Linked DNA regions of Homo sapiens. The protein of the gene in region 2 interacts with the protein of the main gene of each other region in a biochemical or structural test. Each region holds a gene or a part of one and is shown on either strand. Other genes may lie near its edges.

Evidence for each region.
Region 1: the proteins of BASP1 (region 2) and TRIM37 form a complex in vitro, tested with the Homo sapiens proteins (one study listed by BioGRID).
Region 3: the proteins of BASP1 (region 2) and GAD2 form a complex in vitro, tested with the Homo sapiens proteins (one study listed by BioGRID).

The regions. Positions count from the first base shown.
Region 1 is NC_000017.11:59,047,881-59,054,880, reverse strand, and holds part of TRIM37 (E3 ubiquitin-protein ligase TRIM37), read left to right. Parts: intron 1-3,552; coding exon 3,553-3,667; intron 3,668-5,487; coding exon 5,488-5,703; intron 5,704-7,000. UniProt on the Homo sapiens protein: E3 ubiquitin-protein ligase required to prevent centriole reduplication. Probably acts by ubiquitinating positive regulators of centriole reduplication.
Region 2 is NC_000005.10:17,220,631-17,229,085, forward strand, and holds part of BASP1 (brain acid soluble protein 1), read left to right. Parts: intron 1-8,455.
Region 3 is NC_000010.11:26,296,774-26,303,773, reverse strand, and holds part of GAD2 (glutamate decarboxylase 2), read right to left. Parts: intron 2,987-7,000; coding exon 2,813-2,986; 3' UTR 1-2,812. UniProt on the Homo sapiens protein: Catalyzes the production of GABA.

The DNA.
Region 1 (7,000 bases), on a different chromosome or scaffold from region 2:
CAGCCTGGCCAATATGGTGAAATCCTATCTCTACTAAAAATACAAAAATTAGCCGGGCTGTGGTGGCACGCGCCTGTAATCCCAGCTACTCAGGAGGCCAAGGCAGGAGAATCGCTTGAATCCGGCAGGTGGAGGTTGCAGTGAACCGAGATTATGCCACTGCACCCCAGCCTGGGCGACATAGCAAGACCCTATCTCAAAAATAATAATAAAGTAAATAAAAACAACAGCCCTGTTTAACGTGGGGTAGTCTTTACAGGTCAGAAGTTTTTGGGCATTGGCTGGGTGCCGTGGCTCACGCCTGTAATCCCAGCACTTTGGGAGGCTGAGGTGGGTGGATCACCTGAGGTCAGGAGTTCAAGATCAGCCTGGGCAACATGGTGAAACCCTGTCTCTACTAAAAATACAAAAATTAGCTGGGCATGGTGGCAGGCACTTGTAATCCCAGCTACTTGGGAAGCTGAGGCAGTTGAATCGCTTGAGTCCGGGAGGCAGATGTTGCAGTGAGCCGAGATTTCACCAGTGCACTCCAGCCTGGGCGACAAGAGTGAAACTCCATCTTAAAAAAACAAAAAACAAACAAAAAAAGGTTTTTGGGTATCATTACATGATGTTATAATTTGATGATCAAAATAAGAACTTGAATATTTAAAAAAGATTAAAATATGTTCTGAACTGAGAAGTTTCAGAGTATTTAACAGTTTAAAAAGTTCTCATCACAACAATTTTAAACATTTTTTTCTTGAGAGTGATTTAATGTACTCCTGAATTTCCCTTATTCGGAGCTCTTTGTTCTTGAGCATACTGGACAGATGAGTTGCTATCATATCAGCATTTACTCTTATGTGTTTTCCGTAGCTTTTCTGGAAGTATAAAGAAGTTTAACAAGGGATATGATTTTCAGTGTAGGGAAAAAGATATGTTTTTGTTATTGTTTTGTTTTGTTTAGAGTCAGTGTCTTGCTATATTGCCCAGTCTAGTCTAGAATTCTCGGGCTCAAGTGATCCTCCTGTCTCAACTTCCCAAGTAGGTAGGATTACAGGTGCATGCCACGGTGCCTGGAATCATGTTTTTTGAGGGGAGGGATTATTTTAGTTTTCTTCGTATAGCTTTTCAGACTTTTGGGGTTTAACTATTCACCAAGAGAAATAATTTATTGCTATTTCATGCTTCAGCCATAGAGAGAATTACAAAATTATTCAAACATCAATTTTACCAACCTATAAAAGACCCATTTTCTTATAGCCTTGATTTCATCCTTATTAGCGTTACTTATTAGTACAGAAACAAATTCCTGTTATGACATCATTTTTTTTAAGCAACATTGAGTCTATACCATATGCCTGACACTGAGTTGCTAATAAGAAAAATATAGACATGGTTTTTGTCCACAGGGAACTCAAGATGAAATTGGCAGATAAAAACAGAATTTACTACTCTCTTATTATAAAATAATGCTATAGTAGCACCGTAAGTAAATTGCTATGAAGTTTGTGGATAGGGGGCTTCACATTATCCTATTAATGAGACATTGCTCAAACTTTAAACCTTTTATTTCAAGATTCTGGTGGAATTTTGTATGTATTTATTAGAAAGTTATTTAAGGCTTTTCTATAACTATGAATGTATGTTTCATTCTTTCATTAAAACAGAAAGTTAAGAAATTTTACCTGCTGCTTGGTTTTGTTTTAATGGCAAAATATTAGAACTAATGTGCAGAGTTAACCAGTGGTTTAAATCATTCAAAGAAAATAATAGTGTTTAGACGGTCTTACTTTAATGTCTTACCAGTGGGTACTTCCTAGACTGTGAATCGTCTCTGCTCAGTTGAGTGAATCATCTCTACTCAGTTCCGTTCAGAACGTAATTTAATCTCTTGATTTGATTTGATTTGATTTGATTTGATTTGATTTGATTTGATTTTTTGAGACAGAGTTTCGCTCTGTTGCCCAGGCTGGAGTGCAGTGGTGCGATCTCGGCTCACTGCCACCTTTGCCTCCCAGATTCAAGCGATTCTCCTGCCTCAGCCTCCTGAGTAGCTGGGATTACAGGCGCCCGCCACCATACCCGGCTAATTTTTGTACTTTTAGTAGAGACGGGGTTTCACCATGTTGGCCACGCTGGTCTCGAACTCCTGACCTTAGGTGATCTGCCCACCTCGGCCTCCCAAAGTGCTAAGATTACAGGTGTGAGCCACTGTGCCCGGCCAATCTCTCTCTTTTTTTAATACTCAAGTTCTCATTTTGATCATCCAGTTATAACATATAATGATGCCCAAAAACTTCTGACCTATAAAGACTATCCCAACATTAAATAGGACTGTTGTTTTATAGTCAGTGTTTATGTTCTGTCCTTTCTTGCATTAGTATTCTTCACTAAAACTAGATATCTACTGCCAGATAACTGTTAAATGGTCAGTAGGTTCTTACAATAAGGTGTAAAATCCTAGAAAAAAATGAACAGCTAACATTGTGTAGCCGGGTAAAAGGGCTGGAAGGAATGAGAGAGATGTAGATGTCCAAATTAGTCTTGCCTTGTGGTTTTTCCTTTCTTCAAAAACACCTTCACACATGCACTGCAATTTTTTCACCTTAAATATAGTCACGTTAGGCTATGTAACAAAGGTAGAGGTTTGTTTGCTTTAGTAATAGTTTTTTTTTTTTTTTTAATTAAAACAACTCTGGATAGATTAAGATTCTGTCATTTATATATTAATACGATTTTATGTAGGTGCAGTACTTTTTTTCCTAACCTAAGCTGAAATAATGCCATATTGTAATAAGGGCAGTTTTGATTGCTATCTTGAAGGGTTCAGGATATAGTTTATTTAGAGCATGTAACTCCTTGGGGGATAGTAAAGCAATCCTGGGTGGTTGAGCCAGGAAGTGATTTTTTTTCTGAGGGGCAGGAAATACGGGAACGTGAGATGGAATAGAGAAATATAAAGAGCAGCACTTAAAACTTTGTATTTTGCTACAAAAAATTAGCCGGGCGTAGTGGCGGGCGCCTGTAGTCCCAGCTACTTGGGAGGCTGAGGCAGGAGAATGGCGTGAACCCGGGAGGTGGAGCTTGCAGTGAGCCGAGATCCCGCCACTGCACTCCAGCCTGGGCGACAGAGCGAGACTCCGTCTCAAAAAAAAAAAAAACTTTGTATTTTGCTGGGGCCTCATTTAGGGAAGAAAGGGATAAGAGTTATCTTCCTCCTTATAGGAGGAAACTGCATAGTATATGGCTCTCTTCTTCCCAACTCATGATCATCATTGTATTTTAGTTACATTATTATAATAAATATGCCTGAGTAGGTTAGTTTGGGAAGCTTAACTACAATGTACAATGTTATTTCTTTAGAAAGGTAGTTTGAGGACAACTGGCTTTTCAGAACCTTGTGTCATAATCTGTGGACTACATCTATAAACAACAAATACTAGCAGCTCTAAGTTTATGTGAATTTTGGCCTTATAATCAAGTTAACCCAAATTGCAGAATTCAGTGCTAGACTGATAATGTTTTACTATTTGAATTTTTTTTTTAATGTGGCACAATTCTTTTAAGGTTTCAGGTACGTTCACCAACTTTCTTTCAAAAATCCCGGGACCAGCATTGGTACATTACTCAGTTGGAAGCTGCACAGACTAGTTATATCCAACAAATAAACAACCTTAAAGAGGTAAGAAAATATCTATTTCTGTTTTGGTGTTTCCTATTGTCCTTTTGGCTTGTTATATTTGTAATTAGATTTTATATATTTTATTGCTATTTGTAATTTTGTAATTTGTAATTAGAAAAAAAATCTAGTTATCTTGTTCCCCATCCTTACCAGTTCTGCAGTGTCCAGTTTAGTAGACACTAGCCACATACGGCCATGTAAATTTTTATTTTACTTTATTTATTTATTTTTTTTGAGAAGGAGTCTCGCTCTGTTGCCCAGGCTGGAGTGCAGTGGTGCAATCTCGGCTCACTGCAAGCTCCGCCTCCTGGGTTCACGCCATTCTCCTGCCTCAGCCTCCTGAGTAGCTGGGACTACAGGCGCCTGCCACCACACCGGGCTAATTTTTTTGTATTTTTAGTAGAGACAGGGTTTCACAGTGTTAGCCAGGATGGTCTCGATGTCCTGACCTCGTGATCTGCCCACCTCGGCCTCCCAAAGTGCTGGGATTACAGGCATGAGCCACCACGCCCTGCCACTTTATTTTTATTTTTTTTTATTTTGGAGACAGGTCGGACTCACTCTTGTTGCCAGGCACAATTTCCACTAACTGCAGCTTCAACTTCCCAAGCTCGGGTGATCTTCCCACCTTAGCCTCCCAGGTAGCTGGGACTACGAGCATGTGTCATGGCTAGTTTTTGTTTTTGTGGAGATGGGTTTCTCCATGTTGCCCAAGCTGGTCTTGAACTCCTGGGCTCAAGCAGTCTGCCTGCCTTGGCCTCCCAAAGTGCTGGGATTACAGGTGTGAGCCACTGTGCCTGGTCTGTAAATTTAGCTTAATTAAAATTAAAAATTTAGTTCCTTAGTTGCAGTAGCCACATTTCAAGTGCTTGCATTGGTTACTGCAAATCTAGAGCATTTCCATCATTGCATAAAGTTGTTTTGAACAGTGTGGCTGTAGTTTGAGGTAAGCTGTTTGTGTTTCTGTCAGTGACTTAGTTTCTCTTCCACAAGTTATCTTGGATTTAGAGGATTCTAGGCTATAGCACAATTAAAAGTTGTCCCATCTTGAACTCTTACTATTGTTGAATGAGCACTGGGGAAGATTAATTGATGAATTTTTATTTTACAGTGGTAAACTAAGGAATGTTTCATTTCCCTTAGGAAGTTAGGGTGTGGCAGGAGGTTTGGAGTGCTGAGAGTCGTTAATAGGTCAGGGAGGAAAATGTGAATAAATACATGCTTTCAGAGATTTTCATGTTAAATGTGCTATTTAAAACTGCCTGTATTCACTATACTGTTTGCTAATTGTATGTTTAGCTTAGGCTGGATATGAAAGAAGGAGGATGAGCATAAATGGGGCAGTTTATCTTTGTCATCAATTTTTTTTTATAAATAAAAGGCAGTAGGGATTCAGAGAAATGGTTTAAGAAATGGTGCCAAGTGAGGTGGCTCATTCCTGTAATCCCAGCATGTTGGGAGGCCGAGGCCAGAGGAACATTTGAGCCCAGGGGTTCAAAACCAGCTTGAGCAACATAGCAAGATACCGTCTCTAAAAATAAATAAAAATGAAATTAGCCAAGCATGGTGGCACACACCTCCAGTCCCAGCCACTTGAGAGGCTGAGGCAGTAGGATCGTTTGAGCCCAGTAGTTCAAGGCTTGCAGTGAGCTATGATGGCACCACTGCACTTCAGCCTGGGCAACAGAGTGAGACCATTCTCAAAAAATAAATAAAGCAATGGTTTTAGAAACATCTGGATGCATTTTTTTTTCACTTGAGACATCTTTTACTGTGCCAGTGAGCTGTGGCTAATATTTGTGCTTTTCTTGTTTTAAAAGAGACTTACTATTGAGCTGTCTCGAACTCAGAAGTCAAGAGATTTGTCACCACCAGATAACCATCTTAGCCCCCAAAATGATGATGCTCTGGAGACACGAGCTAAGAAGTCTGCATGCTCTGACATGCTTCTCGAAGGTGGTCCTACTACAGCTTCTGTAAGAGAGGCCAAAGAGGATGAAGAAGATGAGGAGAAGATTCAGAATGAAGATTATCATGTAATAATGAGGCCAGTTTTAGATTTTTGTGTTTGATTAAAAAAAAACAGTAGCATCATGGCTTTTAACATATTATGTGCTAAAACAGTAGGCTAAAAATATTGTCCATTGATTTCCATTAGTAATGTATGTATGCCCTTATGTAAATGTTAATAAGTCAGAAGTTGTTGAATCAAAGCATTTCAAGGTTGTGAAAAAAACAATACATTGTATAAAACAAACCGTGATACACATTTTAAAACCTAAACTACCATACATTGTGGATTTTAAAAATGTGTTCTGGCCGGGTGCGGTGGCTCACACCTGTAATCCCAGCACTTTGGGAGGCCAAGGTGGGTGGATCACATGAGGTCAGGAGTTCGAGACTATCCTGGCCAACATGGCCAAACCCTGTCTCTACGAAAAATACAAAAATTAGCTGGGTGTGGTGGTGCTTGCCTGTAATCCCAGCTACTTGGGAGGCTGAGGTAGGAGAATCACTTGAACCTAGGAGGCGGAGGTTGCAGTGAGCCAAGATTGTGCCACTGCACTCCAGCCTGGGAGACAGAGCAAGACTCTGTCTCAAAGAAAAAGAAAAAAAAAAGGTGTTCTATTTTCATTCACTGAAACTAGTACATGCCTTATCATTACTTACGTAGGTAGACTGATTTAGGATTCGGTAGCTAGCCAGGTTCTATCCCAGCTAAACAACAGTCAGAATCCAGAATAAGAGTTCAAGAAGTAGTTGATATTTTTACATAAGAAGGGATGCATAGACAGTTGGTTTTTTTGTAGTAATTTTTAAGATGAGAGACTTCAGTTTTAAGTTAAAATGAAGGACCCAGTGGGTCGAGAGAATGCACAGATTAAGTGCTTTGATAAACTAGAGATAATAGGGTTTGGAATGGAGCAGTCAGGTGAAGCAGTTAACCTTTGATAAACTGAGTTAAAGGAAGGGTGGAGTTTGCAGGTAAGGCAGCTGAAAAGTTGGGGAAGTTTTTGCTTAATAGTGGGTATTTTTTTTCTGTGCAGATAGGTGACAGTGTTAATTAATGACCTTGATAATGGTAAAATTAGGTAGAATTGAGGAGTGATGGTTTGAAACGTTACTCTGTGAGGAAGCTGATGTGGAATATGTGAAGGATTCCAGTCACACTGAGGGCCCAGCTGAAGGCGGCACGCATAAGTTAGTAAAATGATATCAGTCAGTGTGGTTGTGTGATTTTTCTCTACAGGGCTCAGCAGCTGAGGCACAGGAGCAGAAAATAGATTTTTGAAAACTGTATTATTCTTTGGTGCTTGGTTTATGGGCTGGATG
Region 2 (8,455 bases):
GTCTGCCATTGTGACGTGTAGAAGAGAACCTTATCTCCCCACATCACCCTAGTTTAAAGGTCCAATGGGAGAGCCCTAAACATTTAGGCTGTCTATCCTTGGAGGCCTCTTCATAATCCTGGATTTACTAGGATCCATAATCCTCCTGGATCTTATGGTGCAAGAGGTGATGCGTTCTGTCTCTTTATTTTTTAATTTCACAATTAAGAACAGTTTGAAGCCATTTTCATTTCATGGTCAAGCGGAGTATGACATCAGAGAGAAACTTTCATTTGGAGGAGATTTGATCACTCTAAAATGGATGTCTGTGTTATTTACGGTAGTTTTGTAAAAATTGCAAAATCCACACCCATTTTTAAAAACAAGGTGTCATGTATATACACATGTACACATACACATACTTGTTTATACACACTCTAAAATCTTATGAATAACTTGAAATCAAACTGGTTGGTATAGAATATTATTTTATAGTGCTTTGATACTGGTCTTTGGAACATAATCAATTTCTGTCTTTCTAAATATGTGTTTGAAAGGGAAAGCCTAGCAAGTCTATTAATAAGCTCACTTCCCATTTATCCCAGTGTACCTGGAGCATTAAGCTAAGACGTTCATCCACAGGCTTAAAAACTTACATCAAGCACTACTGAACTTTACAAGCTGGAATAAACAATGCCTACTAAATAAAAGATTTATAAAATTGTTCTGTCTTATTTTTGTGATCTCTTGTAAATGTTTTTTTTTTTTTTTTTTTTAAATATCCAAAGAAGACCTGTGAACTATTATTTGTCAGAAGCAATTGCCCTTGGTATCTGATTCTGTTGAAAGAAATGCGTTGATTTGTCCAGACCTTTATCTTAATGTAGTTTGTACCTACTTATTTCACATCTTCTTTCTCTTCTTAATGATGGTCTTAGCTGGTACCCTGGAAACCAGGTAACTGCTGGGGAAAAACACTGAGTAGATATATAGACAACTTGAATATTCTCTGAAAATGGGCATGGAATCTTTATTGTTATATCAAATTTTCTCTAATTATATCTAATCCTTTAAATTTATTGTATCTCTTAAGACATTAGATAAGCCAGTGAACATGAGCTTTTTTCTTTGGCTTAATTATAGTGGACAACTATTAGGAAGGAACTGTGAGGTTGCAAATAGAATATTTTGAAAGATAAAGTACTCTTTATGTGTTTTGGGGTAATGTTTTTGGAGTGGTTTCTCAGGAAATCGTATAAAGACTGGATTTGAAGAATCTAATAATTCCTATTTTGGGGTTGTAATAAGAACTACATATGATATCTAAAAATGACTTAAGTGTGGAATGGCTGGCTCTGAAGGGCTCCTCAACCTCTCAGTCTCAATTAGTGATATCAATTACACTGAAAGTGTTTTCAACAACTGAAAGTGTCAATCAACACTTTCAGTGTAATTGACATCACTAACTAATTTCAGTATATTCAGCTGTATTTTTGTTCCAGCTTGATTAATGAAGCCCGGGGGACCCCAGGAGTATTAAGTTAGAAGTAGGATGTCTCAATCCTAAAGGGGACCAAATATCATGGTTCCTATTTTCTGTCCTTGTGTTTGTAGATATTTGAAATTCTGTATTATATGGGAATTAGCCTGAAAGTGGATTTCATGATATCAAGATGGCCACCTTCCTTGAATTCCCCAGGTCTGCTTATACTTATACTTATGTAACTTAAGAAGTGGCATTTAAGTTCTCTTGAGAAAATACAAGGGTAGTCTTGAAACCACAGCAGTGCCCAGCCTGCCAAAGGAAGGCTTTTGTGAAACGCCTTTCCAGCCACAGCCTTTGAGGCAGACGTCTAGGTAAGTGTCACATGAGAACAGATGTCTGGTAAATGCTCTCAAGAGTAAAAATCAACCATACAGAGTCCATTTCTCACCAGAATATAGTTCAATTGTAATTTTGAGGAGCCACAAGCCTAAGAAGGAAGCAGTGTGATTAAAACAGCATTCTCCTTTTCCCTCTAGAAGTCAGAAATGGGATGAAATGGGAGGCAGAGAGAATGAAATAGTGTGTTTTTCTTCTGCACCCTAAGGATTTAAATAACATAAAAAATTATTTCTTAATGTTTTACAGACTTTCCATACTCAGTACATTTTTGAACAAAAATAGGGAAAGCTGAGATTTTTTGACTCAACAAGGCCGTCAGTGCTGAGAGGTGGTGATTGAGCAGGCTTGGAAGTCTAGGAATACATTCCTGAAAGCTTTAGAGATTTAGAAATAGAAACCATCTGCAAGCACCACAGGGGCCCAGGGCATAAGGAAACACTTCAGGATAATATAGGAAAATGGTGTGCAGTGGAGAAAGCAAAGCATTTACACAATATTTTCCCCTTATCACTTAAGCATTTTATAAACTCTTTTTTTTTTTGGTTCGTTTTGAAGGAGGCAGGACTGGACTTCATTGGTTTGTGTTTTGAACTTCTGTTTGAAGTAGATATTTCAGCAATTTGTACATTGTGTAGGGAGTATAATATTTAGAAAGCATGATTTGGAGGGTTAGGCATGGTGGGGATGGACTTTGGAGCCACAGCACCAGGTTCGAATCTTCTCTCAGCCATTTACTGGTTGTATGATCTTTGGTAAATTGCTTACCTTCTCTGTGCCTCAATTTTATTTAGAAAATGGGAATTGTGATACATGGTTACTGTAAGTATTAAACAAAATTGTCATGCACTTAGGACAATGCCTCCTTATATTCAGTGCATCTTTTTAAAGGAGTGTGAATATCAGTTTTCTTTACTGCATCCTTCATCTATAGCTACTCATATGTTTGTTTCAAAGAGACCATTATTGCAAGACAGGCCAATGGTGGTGCCTTGCTCAGTAGGTAGAATATAGAAGTCTGCGGTTTAGAAAACTCCTCCAGGTGTGGTTAAGAATACGCTAAATACGTCAGTAGTTCATGTGGACTAAGTTTCAAAAGTGGGTAGGTTAATACAACCCAGCCTCCATACTGAATTTGTACTTTTTTTAATTGAAGGAAAAAAATGAAAGTCCTTGGAACTTCAGAGACAGGATTACTGCTTTGATATGTTGAGACCTGGACTCACCCTGATTAGCTGTATGACCTTGGGTGTAGATGTAACTCATTCAGATTCCTGAAAATCCTTAGCTTTGTTGTGTCTTGAATCAGATGTATCATTAGCATTTGAAAGAAGTCTAAGTCATTAGTACTAAGGTTGATAAGCCAACTTAGGTATTTTACATTCCATATTATTCCCACTACCTCCACCCTGCCCCTGCCAAACAGGCATCAGATGCCCACCGCCTCCATACCTGGAGTAAAACTGAAAGTTGTATTATGTAGGAATGTAAAGATGTTGTGATCTATTGACAAATCTTTGGAAGGAATTATCCCCGTGGGGACCTTAGAAATCAGGAACTCTGAACAACAAAACAAAAAAGTCTTTGGAATTTCAGCTATTTGGGGTGGATCAATTCTGGAACTGGTCTTAACATTTCAGACATTTACTTCAGGGATATGCCCAAGGATTTGCTTTTGTCCTTCTGGACACTTTGTTGTTGAGCAAAGGTGAATTCACTCTCATTTTGGGTAAATTGTTGTTTAACAGCTTCCTTAAACAGGTTTTTGTATCTTACGGATTCTGGAGGGAAGTCATATATTTTACTCTATCTGTCAGGTGTTCACTGTAAGGAAGGGGATTTTAGATATAGTGGTTATGTCTTTTAAAAAGTTTCCTAGGATTTCAATCCGTGTAGATGGAGCTACACTGTACTTCTCCTAAGCCTTGGCCATTTTATCTTAGGTAATATGGACTCTTCAGGGGGGGAAAAAAGGGGAAGGGGGGCTCTTGAATAAAATGGGTAGCCTTTTCACATATTGACATCTTCAGTATTAATTTAGAGAGAGCGATACTAACTTCTTCAATGAAAAATTATTTATGGAAGAGATCCAGTGTATACTTCTAATATTTCATCAGTATTACGTTAAATTGCTTGTAGATTAGAGGTGCTTCTTGTCATAGTGAATGGAGACTAATACCTTAAGTCATTCCTTTCTAGTATGATGATTGTGGTTGCTCTTACTGAGGACTATAAATGTGGATTTGGTTGATACTTTCACGTTTCTCCTTGGACATTGCAGATGGAAGTCATAACCCCAAATGTCTTACTTATCTGCAATTTTGCTCTGAGATATGGACCAGGCTCTAGCAGACCGTCTGCCACTGTGTAGTTAGTGTTGCCTGATTAGAAATAAACCAAGTCCTGCCTAAATTGGTCAATCTGTTTTGTTCCGCGTCCACGCAGGATCCACTTACAGAAAGCCAGTGGCTGCTTTTAACCACTATCGAAACCTCAGTCCTTTGTAAGTACTTTCCTTGGAGCAGAAGGTTTAAAAGCTCATGACTAAACACTCATTTTGGAACTCAAAATAATCTTAGAGAAGTTAGTGGGTTGCTCAGAGTCCCACGAGCTGCTTATGGGCTGCGTGGAAACCCAGGTTATTTCCCCATAAAGCCTCACTCCTGCTGCCCCTCTCTTCTGAGAGAGAAGCAGAGAATGTCTAATTGAGTCACTCTTACTCACTGTCTGCAACGTAAAACTTTTTTTTCTACCATTTTTTTTTGTACCCTAGAACCATTAAAAAAAAAACCAGTCTGGATCCTATATCCGTCTCATGATCTCCCCCAGAGGAGACCTCTTCGGCCTTTTAATACACCACACATGCCCCAGGGGGACGGTGCAGTCACTACCTGCTGCCACTTCATCCACAGGCCATCTTCCCCTCAACTTACTCCTTTCTGCTTCTTACATTATGTGCACGTGGTTTCCTTTATATGCCAAAAAGTATATGGCATGCACTGAAATAACTTTCTTCATAAAACTAAACTTTAGTTTTTCTAAAATTTAAGTTAAATCCTTGTTTTTCTCCCAAAATGCACAGTGGTTGGGGGCTGGGAAGCTGGCGATGGTGGGTATGTGTTTGAAAAGAACGCCAGCTGGCTTTAGACTTATTTGGGGGCTATAGAGCAAGCGGAGCAGTCAGGCATCCCACCCACCCCTGAAATGCTCGGGGCCCTCTTGGCAGATCCAGTGTGCACGTTGTCGTGGCAGGTGGTGGATGGAGAGCTTTTATGCCGATTTCTAGCGTTATCTGGCTTATTGGTTTGAGAGCTGCATACAACGGGATGTTTAATCTTTTTTATTTAAAATTACCATTTATAGTATTTGGGGTGATTTAGAGGATTTAAAAAATCTGTTAGATTCTGAAGTAGTCCTTAAAATATGGAACATAAGTGCTTAAGATGCTAAAACACTTTCTAAAGCATACTATTGGGATGTTTGAAACTGATGTTGGTAAATGTAAACTGTGTGCATTTGTGTTTGGATAATCTGTGATAAGTTTAGTTTTTGATGAGACACAATTTTAATTTCACATTTAAAATGACATATTGAGGTCAATAAGAGCAGGTTTGAATTTACATTTTCCAGAGAAACCCACAATTAATAGGTAACTTTTATTTTCATAATGCTTTTAATTATTACACTTACGTAGATTCAGAAATGGATATATTCCTAAAATAAACCAAAATTAAAACTTCTTTGTCTTTTTAAAGAAAAGCTGTGGTTCTATTAGAGAAAAATACTTCTTTTTTAAGTTTATGAAGAAATAGCTGTTAGATAAAAACTTTTCCTGGTTGAGCTTTCTAAATTACAAATTTCCTGAATTGCATGGCAAAGTGACTTTGAAAAGACCCACTTCATTTTTCCTTTGACAGTCTATTCAAAACACCATTACCACGTAGACTAATACAATAACCAAGGTAAATAGTAACAAGATCTAATGGGGGAAATAGTGTATCAAAAGGGGGAAAACAGTATCCACTGACAGAGAGAACTAGCTGTTTCTTAAAGAGACAGAGAAGAAAGGTTTCCTCGGAGTTATTGGGTCTTCATAGGATGGTCTCCTGTCCTTCTCTGAGCTTGCCTTGGAAACTGTAGAGGCTGTAGGAATATTTGCTGTCTTTAACCCTTACTAATGTTCTCAGCTATTTCATTAGAGGATCACAGTGTCTGTATTTGCCTTAGGTGTAAGATGATTGGAGAAAAGGAAAATGTAGAGAAATCAGATTGACTTTAGATGGACAGGCAGAGAGTTCTGGAGTGACTTCCCACTCCTTAATTCTGCAATGCACCCAGAAGGCAGGGTGAGGTTAGATGATCACCTGGGTATTTACTATAGCCATTATTACTGTGATTAGATAAAGTGTCCTGGAATCTTCTCTGAATAACTCATTTTTCTTTTTTTTTTTTTTCTTTTTTTCGTTTTGCTCTGTCGCCCAGGCTGGAGTGCAGTGGCGCAATCTCAGCTCACTGCAACCTCAGCCTCCTGGGTTCAAGCGATTCTCCTGCCTCAGCCTCCCGAGTAGCTGGGATTACTGGCACCCGCCACCATGCCCAGCTAATTTTTTCGTATTTTTAGTAGAGACAAGGTTTCACCATGTTGGTCAGGCTGGTCTTGAACTCCTGACTTCGTGATCCACCTGTCTTGGCCTCCCAAAGTGCTAGGATTACAGGTGTGAGCCACCGCACCCGTCCTTTTTTCTTTTTAGACAGTCTCACTCTGTCGCCCAGGCTGGAGTGCAGTGGCGCAATTTCTGCTCACCACAACCTCTGCCTCCTGGGTTCAAGCAATTCTCGTGCCTCAGCCTCCCTAGTAGCTGGGACTACAGGTGTACGCCACCAAGCTTGACTAATTTTTATATATATATATATATACAATATTTTTTTTGACAGAGTCTCGCCGTGTCGCCCAGGCTGGAGTGCAGTGGCACGATCTCGGCTCACTGCAACCTCCGCCTCCCAGGTTCAAGCAATTCTTTTGCCCCAGCCTCCAAAGTAGCTGGGCCTACAGGTGCCGCCACTATGCCCGGCTAATTTTTTTGTATTTTTTAGTAGAGATGGGGTTTCACTATATTGGCCAGGCTGGTCACAAACTCCTAACCTCAAGTGATCTGCTCTCCTTGGCCTCCCAAAGTGCTGGGATTACAGGCGTGAGCCACCATGCCCGGCCAATAACTCATTTTTCTAAGGAAGAAAGAATCTCGATTAACAATTGGTGATGACAGTGCCTCCAAAGGCTTCTCATAATCACCCAACCTCAGGTAAACAGGGTGAATGCCACCCTATTGACAGGAGGTTTATTGTGGCACTGGGTTTTGCTCAGTAGCCCTGGTGATCTGTTGTTGAGAACCCAAGCTCATATTTCCCAAGGCTCACCCAACTGGACTTTAGAAACCTGGTTCCAGAATTTTCAAATGTTTGGTTTTCAGGCAGATAGTAACAAGTGTTTGTACCAATGTTCTCCAGAAGGTTGTTAAGACAAGATTGATAATGCTTCCCAGGTATGTGTTTCTTTTTCTGACTCACAGCTGCATGTTACTAGTTTTCCTCATCTGACCCGATGATTGACTGATGGAAAGTCTCATTGAAGGTTTGGTTATCCTTTCATTGGTAGAAGAGACAAAAACAGGACATAAGTGGCTTATTCCATTCACCTCTACTTTTCTATTGTAACTGGATTTATTTCTGCCATCCAGACAGAGAGCCTGGGCTTTGATTTCATCTGTACCAAAGTTTTCTGGGTGGACAGGTACAGGGGGTCATCGTAAGAGAACTCAACTGACCACAATGCAGAGAGAGGTAACTATCCAATGGAATGGTAACATGGTTCCACTACGGTAAGAACTGTAGTGTTAAATGAAATGAATTCTTAATGGGAAAGGAGTCCTATGAATATTTCTAAGTTGTTATGTTTAACTTAACTAACTCTTAAATGCAGGGAATTTAACTTAAAAGTGAATTTAACAAAGAAGTGAATTTAAAAGCCAACAAGCTTCATATCTCTCCACCTCACCCCAAACCCGTGTTAATTAGCCCTTCTTGCTTAAATCAAATCACCTTGTTGAAATTTAATGCTGTGACTAGCAATGTATTCTTTGACCATATCCTTGTTTCCAGCAACAAATACTGCCACGTTAAGGGGAGAAGGAAGTGATGGATAGAGGGACCAGTTGGCAGATTGGGACACACGTACAAACACTATTCCTTTAACTTGCTTTCTTTAGATCCGTAGTTCCTACCTGTGAGTCTCATTTCTGTATTGATCCGCATTGGCTAAGCATACGACTAAAGCGGGATTCTTTGTCTTTTCTTCAGTGAGCTAGCCAGGAATCTCAGAAAAAGGGCAAAGAAGTCCAGAATGATGTAATGCTGCAAAAAATGTTACTGCTGTTTCTAAGGGGAGTGGAAGAAACCCAAGCCAGTTTTGAGTTGAGTGTGCTTCCTGTTGGAAGGGGGTGAGAATTCAGAGATGTATACCTATTAAAAAAAAAACAAAACTCTTAGGATATCACACAGCGTGGCAAACCAGCAAGCCCTGACCTGTTAGCAGTT
Region 3 (7,000 bases), on a different chromosome or scaffold from region 2:
ATTGATTTCCTTTTCTTTCCTCACATCCTGTGGCAGTATATGAAGTCCATACCATGTATAGGTCTCAGATAAAGACATATCACACTTGTTTGTTCAAGTATTTTAAATGATAAACACAATATTGCTGTATAAATGAAAATGGCCATGTCAGTTCTGATTAAAGCTAAAACCAAACTTTTCTAAGATTTGTAAAGAATGGGCACACATAAAGACCATGGCACTGGGAATTTGGGCTAATATTAAAAATAATCTCCCTTCTTTCCTCCCTCCCTCCCTCCCTTCATTTCCTTCCTCCCTCCCTCCTTCCCTCCCTCCCTCCCTCCCTCCCTTCCTCCCTTACTCTCTTCTGACCTGATTCCACATCTCCTTTCAAGATGATTTATTAAACTACTGGGACCTACTAGGCTTTTATTTGCTTCCTTCTTTGGGCTACAGTTGGTAAGGATTTCCCTGCACAGGCCTGAGCAAGGCTCTCAGCCAATTTGAAGGAGTACTGGGAAGGGGTAGGGGAGCGGGGAAGAAGAGCTATTGTTGTTGCTAGAATTGTTTTGCTGGAATTTCATATATAGGCACAAATTGTCCTTTAAAATTTTACCATCTCATTAACCTAAAAAGCAGCAGTTTATAATCTAGGATCTGTAACTCAAAAGATAAAGCATCCTGGAGTACAGCAGGGTTGGTTCACCAGGGCACTGGGCCCCACTGTCTTCTCCACGAAGGACAGCAGGTTGGATCAATTAGCATCTCTGTCTCTGAAGTGGAACCTTTGGGCCTGAGGCTCCGGATAGTCGGGCAGCTATGTGCTTATTCTCAGCAGGCAGTTTTGAGAAAGGAACTGCTTTCTAATGCTTTGTCTAATGCTTGGCCATTAGACAAAGCCTAGAATGGAAGGTTACTCCTTCATGAAATTCTGCGGGACAGATGAAAGAGTTTATTTCTGATTGTCATAGTGAACCCATTTGTTTTTCTAGACAGAAAGGGCCCAAAGCCATGTTCATATCAAGTTATCACTGTTTTTGCATATAGCCTAGGAGAAATAATGTAGGGGGAAGCTTATGAAAATTTCAGATGGCTGGATCCTGTGGTTATATTATAGGGCATTTCTCTATGTTATATTGTAGGGCATTTCTACCCGTTGAAGGGCAGGGCCTTCTCTCTTCCCTTGTATACCTGCAGTCTGAGTACTGAACTACCTGGTCCATTCAGAAATGGAGAATGTTCCTAAATTTGCATTTGCAGTCTGCATATCAATCTATTGTTCTCCAATCAGCACTTGGAATCTGACGATGTGTGACCCCATAAATATCTATGGAAGCTTTTGTTAGCTCATGTTTTTCTATCAGGTTCACAGGGAAAGAAGGATGTTTTAAAAATACTATTTTGAATTCTAAGGATCTTATTATTTCTGCATATTCTGGTCACTTTGGATCTCGATGGGAGATGGATAAAGGAAAATCTTAAGATAATGCCTCAAAATCTAGGGTGAGAGGCTCATTTCATGGAAGAAAAACAACCACCCATGGAATATAAAGTAACTATTTTGGGTCCCAGTGGTAGGGAGTCTAGTGGGAGAGACTTTGTGGGGAGGAATGGGGAGGGGATGGAAATGCGCAACTGGCCTGGAGGTAAATTTCTCTTTCCTGGACAGTGGCAATATGGCGCCAGGATGATGTCATTATTGTCCCACAGAGATCTCTTCTCCCAAGGCCAACTTTAATTTTCTGGGCTCACCACATTCTGGGAGTGTGCTTCATTCCTCTTTGCTCAGGCTGATAAGGTTTTATTTTTACTTTCTCTAATTAATTCAAATGACCTAATAAAAGAATACTATTTGGAAGATGCCTCAAGAACTAGCATCAACCTTCTGTTCAAAACAGGCCGAACTGGAAAGCAGAATAGAGACAATTACCCTAATTTAATCTGAGATGAAGCCTGGTTTGTCACGCTTGCAGAGTGAGTCCGCTAAGAGTAAAATGGGTGGAAAACTTAAAGGGGAAGAGAATCTTACTGCCAATGGGATCAATTATTTTAAAGAACTCGCAGTATTCTTTTGTGTTTGTCTTGAAATACTAACTTTAGAGATGTGATAAGCCATAACATGTATAGAAAGAAGCAATAATACCTTTTAAGAATTTCGTGGGTCAATGTTTCAAAATAACTTTGCTAAGTGTTTTATTGTGCCTCCATTAAGAGAAAGGAAAAAAAAATCTGGCTTAGATTTTATATCTGCCCCCGCAGTTTGTATAACCTATATAAAATAAAAATCTATATGTTACAAAATAGGATATCTTTTTTAATATATATATTTTCCTTTTGTAAAATTATATGTATTTAAATACATTTGAAATGTTGCTATAGGTAAATTAGAAATTTTTTTCTAATACTATGAAAAAGGCAAGAGTTTTTATTGTCAACATATATTTTATATTTACTTTGTCCTTTTTACTGCACCCCAAAGAACCTTTTATGATTCAGGGGCAATTTGGCACTATTCAGTCCTACTAGTCTGAAGTGAAAATAAAGTTTGCTTTGCACACTATATTAAAAGTAAGGGAAGTATTTATAACAATTTTAAGCTTTTCCTTATTGATTAGAACATAGCCTTTTGTCACGAATTCTTAGAGAGGTATTCTAAACTTAAGAAAGGACTTTTAAAAGGAGCAATGTCTTTTTTGTTTAATTTTTAAACTCTACTTTGACACCACAATATAGAAATAGATTTACTTTGGAACAAACTACAAATACATTCACACAGTTTGTGACAACTTAATTGTCTACCTAGAGAAGTGGAACAGCTTGGTGAGCAAGGTTATTATAAATCTTGTCCAAGGCGTTCTATTTCTTCAATCAGGAAGTCAATGTCTTGGTGAGTTGCCGCTGGGTTTGAGATGACCATGCGGAAGAAATTGACCTTGTCTCCCAAGGGTTGGTAGCTGACCATTGTGGTTCCATACTCCATCATTCTGGCTTTAATCACTGGAGCCACCTGTGGGACAGACCATATCAGCATGGTGACTTTCTCCTGGGACTCTCCCCTGAGTCAAAGAACCCAACAGCAAGCAGCGTCTTTAGTTTTTAGCTCAACAGTCAGAACCTTATTGTTTTCTCTTGAAAGAGTTACCTCCAAGTTTTCTTGGGATCAGAGAATTAGAACAGTCTAACACATTCAAGATCCTGCAAGTGATAAGAGGAATAATAAGTGATAGACTATCAGCTGCCTGCCACCTTGTCCTTGACTTTCCAGTTAGTGTTTTGGGAGGATGGGATGAATCTAGTATTGGCCCCAAGCTAAATGGGTTAGCAAGACGTTTGGGGGCATTTTCCCCCCACAGTAAATGTAAAAACATTGGAAATAAACAGTTCAGAGGATTGTTACCAAAATGTAAGTTTGAGTGTCAGGTGATATATGAAGATAAGCAGACTTTTGGCAACTTTCTTGAAACCCCAGAGCTTTCTAGTTTCTTTTCGTTCTCTCTTTGCAGTGCCTCACTTTATAAGATATTTTGAAAGATAATCCTTAATAATGATGATAATTAGCTGGGACAAAAAGCTGAACTCACAAGGACTTAACATATGTTTCATATCACAGACAGGATAGCATACCACAGACGAGATTATACTCTATTTATGCCAGATTTTTGATTATAGCCTCAGTAGCTCTCTATTGTATATGAAATTAAGTTTAAACTCTAGTTCAGTGCAAAGACCTTTCATCATCCATTTATGAGGCCTCATCTTCCACCACTTGCCAAAATGAATCTTCAACTCTGACAAGACTCCTTTATTAAATATCTCTTGAATTTACCATATGTATTTTTATCCCTTCACACTTGTCATCAGTGTTACTATGTCATACTTGTTCTCTGTGCTTAGAATCCATCCCTTTTCTCTTCTGGTTCATATCCTACACACACTTCAAGATTCCACCACAGTCCTACAACTGCTATGAAGCCTTTCCTGACTTCTAGTGTCCATCAGTAGCTCTCTTCCTTTAAGCTGTAAACATATCATCCATGATCCTTCCCCATAGATTCTGACTATATGCTAATTTCCTACTATCCTCTTACTTTCAAGCAAATACATTTTCTTTCTCTACCTCAACTGTCAGGTCCTGGAGGGCAGACACAGTGTCTTCTACTGTTTTTGTTGTTGTTCTTTACCAGCACAGTGCTTGGTTCATGTTGGGGGATTCCTAAGTTCTTATTGCTATAAAGAGTAGCATAATAGAAACAGCTATCTAGGAAGAAGCAAAAACTTAAATCATGTCTAACTGTACATACAGTCTATCCACATATATTTACCACTGGAGTTTGTAAATATATAATATCTGATCTTCATTTCTGCAAATGGTAGATAGACATCAGAGAAACTTTTAGACTTCTTTGAGTTTCATATGGTCAGAAACCCGGTTCAAAATGGAGACCATGCCTTCTATCACAGCTGGATTTATCTTAAATAGACAGTTCAATTCAAATGGAATGCTGTTATGAACATGTGACTTATAAATATCAACTCTTAAATAATCATTGGTTTATAATGAAGTTTTCATCTTCAAAGTATCCAATGCATAAAATAGCAATGTTCCCATTGGGTCCAATCATTTGTTAGTTACCAAAGACAAGGTCAACAGGTAGACTTCACCTTCACTTCTCATTCTGAACCTAATTTCCTTCTCTAAAAATGAACGTGGATGATTCCAGCATTGAGATCTTCTGACTCTACATTGAGTTCTTATATCCCTTCCCACCCCTTGTTCCATGGGGAGGAATGTTTCTCTTGGCCTGATCCTTCTTTCACCTAAAGCATTAAGAATGTATGCAGAGCACTGGACTCATCCCAGGGAATAAATAAGAAGAAGAATTAAAATATCTCAAATCTGAGATTAACTTCTGAAAATAGATCTACTAGCATATTCCAGCCAAAGGGGCATGGAATTTATCCTTTGTGTTGTGAGGCGTGTCAAGTCAATGTGGTTCCTGCGAAGATAAATCTCAGATTAGAAAAGGAATTCCAAATCCACTTGGCTGCAGGAATTTAAGGACAAGTCACATAACCATTCCTTAGTTTTATTTGTATAATAAATCACGCTTGCCCTTTAGAACTGATAAAATAATGACAGAGCTTTACTCAGTAAATTAAAGTCTCATTTAGTTTTCATGGGTAATCCAAGCAAAAATACAGAAGAATGGCACTAATTATTAAGGACAATCATCTCTAGCTTTTCAGATGAATGCAAATCAAAGGTTAAAAGATTAATGCTAACAGCCACAAGCAAACAGATTTGGGCATAAAGTAAGATTGAATCCCCTCAGTTCCCGAAGCAAGCTGAATTGGCAGAAATCACAGCTGTCTAAATACATATGACTTTTGGTTGCTTCCAGAAAATGCTGATGAACTAAAATTAGCCGGAACATGAACATCTACTTCGTTGTATATTCACTCATTGCAAGTTAAGAAGGAAAATAAGATTCGGACTATTCTGATGAATATATGTGATCTGTGGGGCCAAAATAGACACTCCTATATCAACTAAGATGGGTCCAGGGTTCAAGGCCTGGCTGGAGGGCAAATTACTAAATTCCTAATGATTGAAATTCCCTAACAATAGGCGCTATGAGACCCCCTCCTTACCCTGATTTACTAACCAGACCACTATAACTCTGACTAGACAGAAGACTGACCTTACACACATTCTTTCCTGGTAAGCAATTGCAGACCTTAAGCCAGTTTTAGCAGCTTATAGATGCGGTGCACAAACTGTGTTTATGTCCTACAGTTCACCTTTTGACATGAAGAGCCAAATTTCACCTCATTCTAACACTAAAACCCTGCCCCGAAGTAAACATGGGATGTATGTTACATATATGTTTACTCATTCTGCATGTGCTCAGCTCCCCTCATAAATATGGATAGCTTTCCCCCAAAACCTACTGAATATGTATGACTCTACTGTGTGATACAGGCCCTGTGAGGCATAAAACCCAACCTGCCCTTCCTCTCTTGGAAGAGAGGGCACCTTCCACACATGCTGGAGGCTGTCTCTTCCCAGTTTGCAAACTGATATCATCAATAAAGCTCTCCTTTCTACTATCTAGCCATCCCAGTGGTCTTTTGGATGAAATACATAGAGATTTCACTTATTTCTAGGCTTTTGTACTTTTTGGTTGGATTCCTAGTTTTCCTAAATAAAGAACGCAAGTTGAGAAAGAGTGGTTGCATGTTGAAGAATTCGCTAAAGGTATAGTCAACAAGAGCTCTTTGGGCCTGCCTTAATAATTTTAGGGTATTGTCTTCTCTCTTGTGCCATTAGCTTTTTCAGTCCTTTAGAAAGCAATAACCAGGCGACTTTTCCATAATTGGAATCCACATTTGTCCCTTTCAAAGAGGGTGCATAGTAAAGCATTATGAAATAAACTTAAAAGATATCACAGAAATGTATTTTTCACTATGTCTTAGAAAACCTCTTTGTTTTTACATTTTGGAAGACTGCGAGAAATTTCTGAAAAATGTAAAAGCAGAATAATTAAATGAGAAATTCTAAACTGTTGGCTAGGCTTGGTGGCTCATGCCTGTAATCCCAGCACTTTGGGAGGCCGAGGTGAGCCGATCACTTAAGGTCAGGCGTTCGAGACCAGCCTGGCCAACATGGTGAAACCCCGTCCCAACCCTGTCCTGACCAAAAAATATAAAAATTAGCTGGGTGTGGTGGTGTGTGCCTGTAATCCCAGCTACTCGGCAGGCTGAGGTGGGAGAATCACTTGAACCTGAGAGGTGGAGGTTGCAGTGAGCCGAGATGGCACCACTGTACTCCAGCCTGGGCAACAGAGTGAGACCCTGTCTTAAAAAAAAAAAATTCTAATATGCGAAAATTTCACCAATTAAATCCTCTATTGCACTTAATAACACAGACTTTCAAAGAGTCTGTATTAAATATAAGTCCAGGCTACTTCCTTACAAATTTAGTATTAAATCCACTGCTAACCTTTGAAAAGTCCTCCAA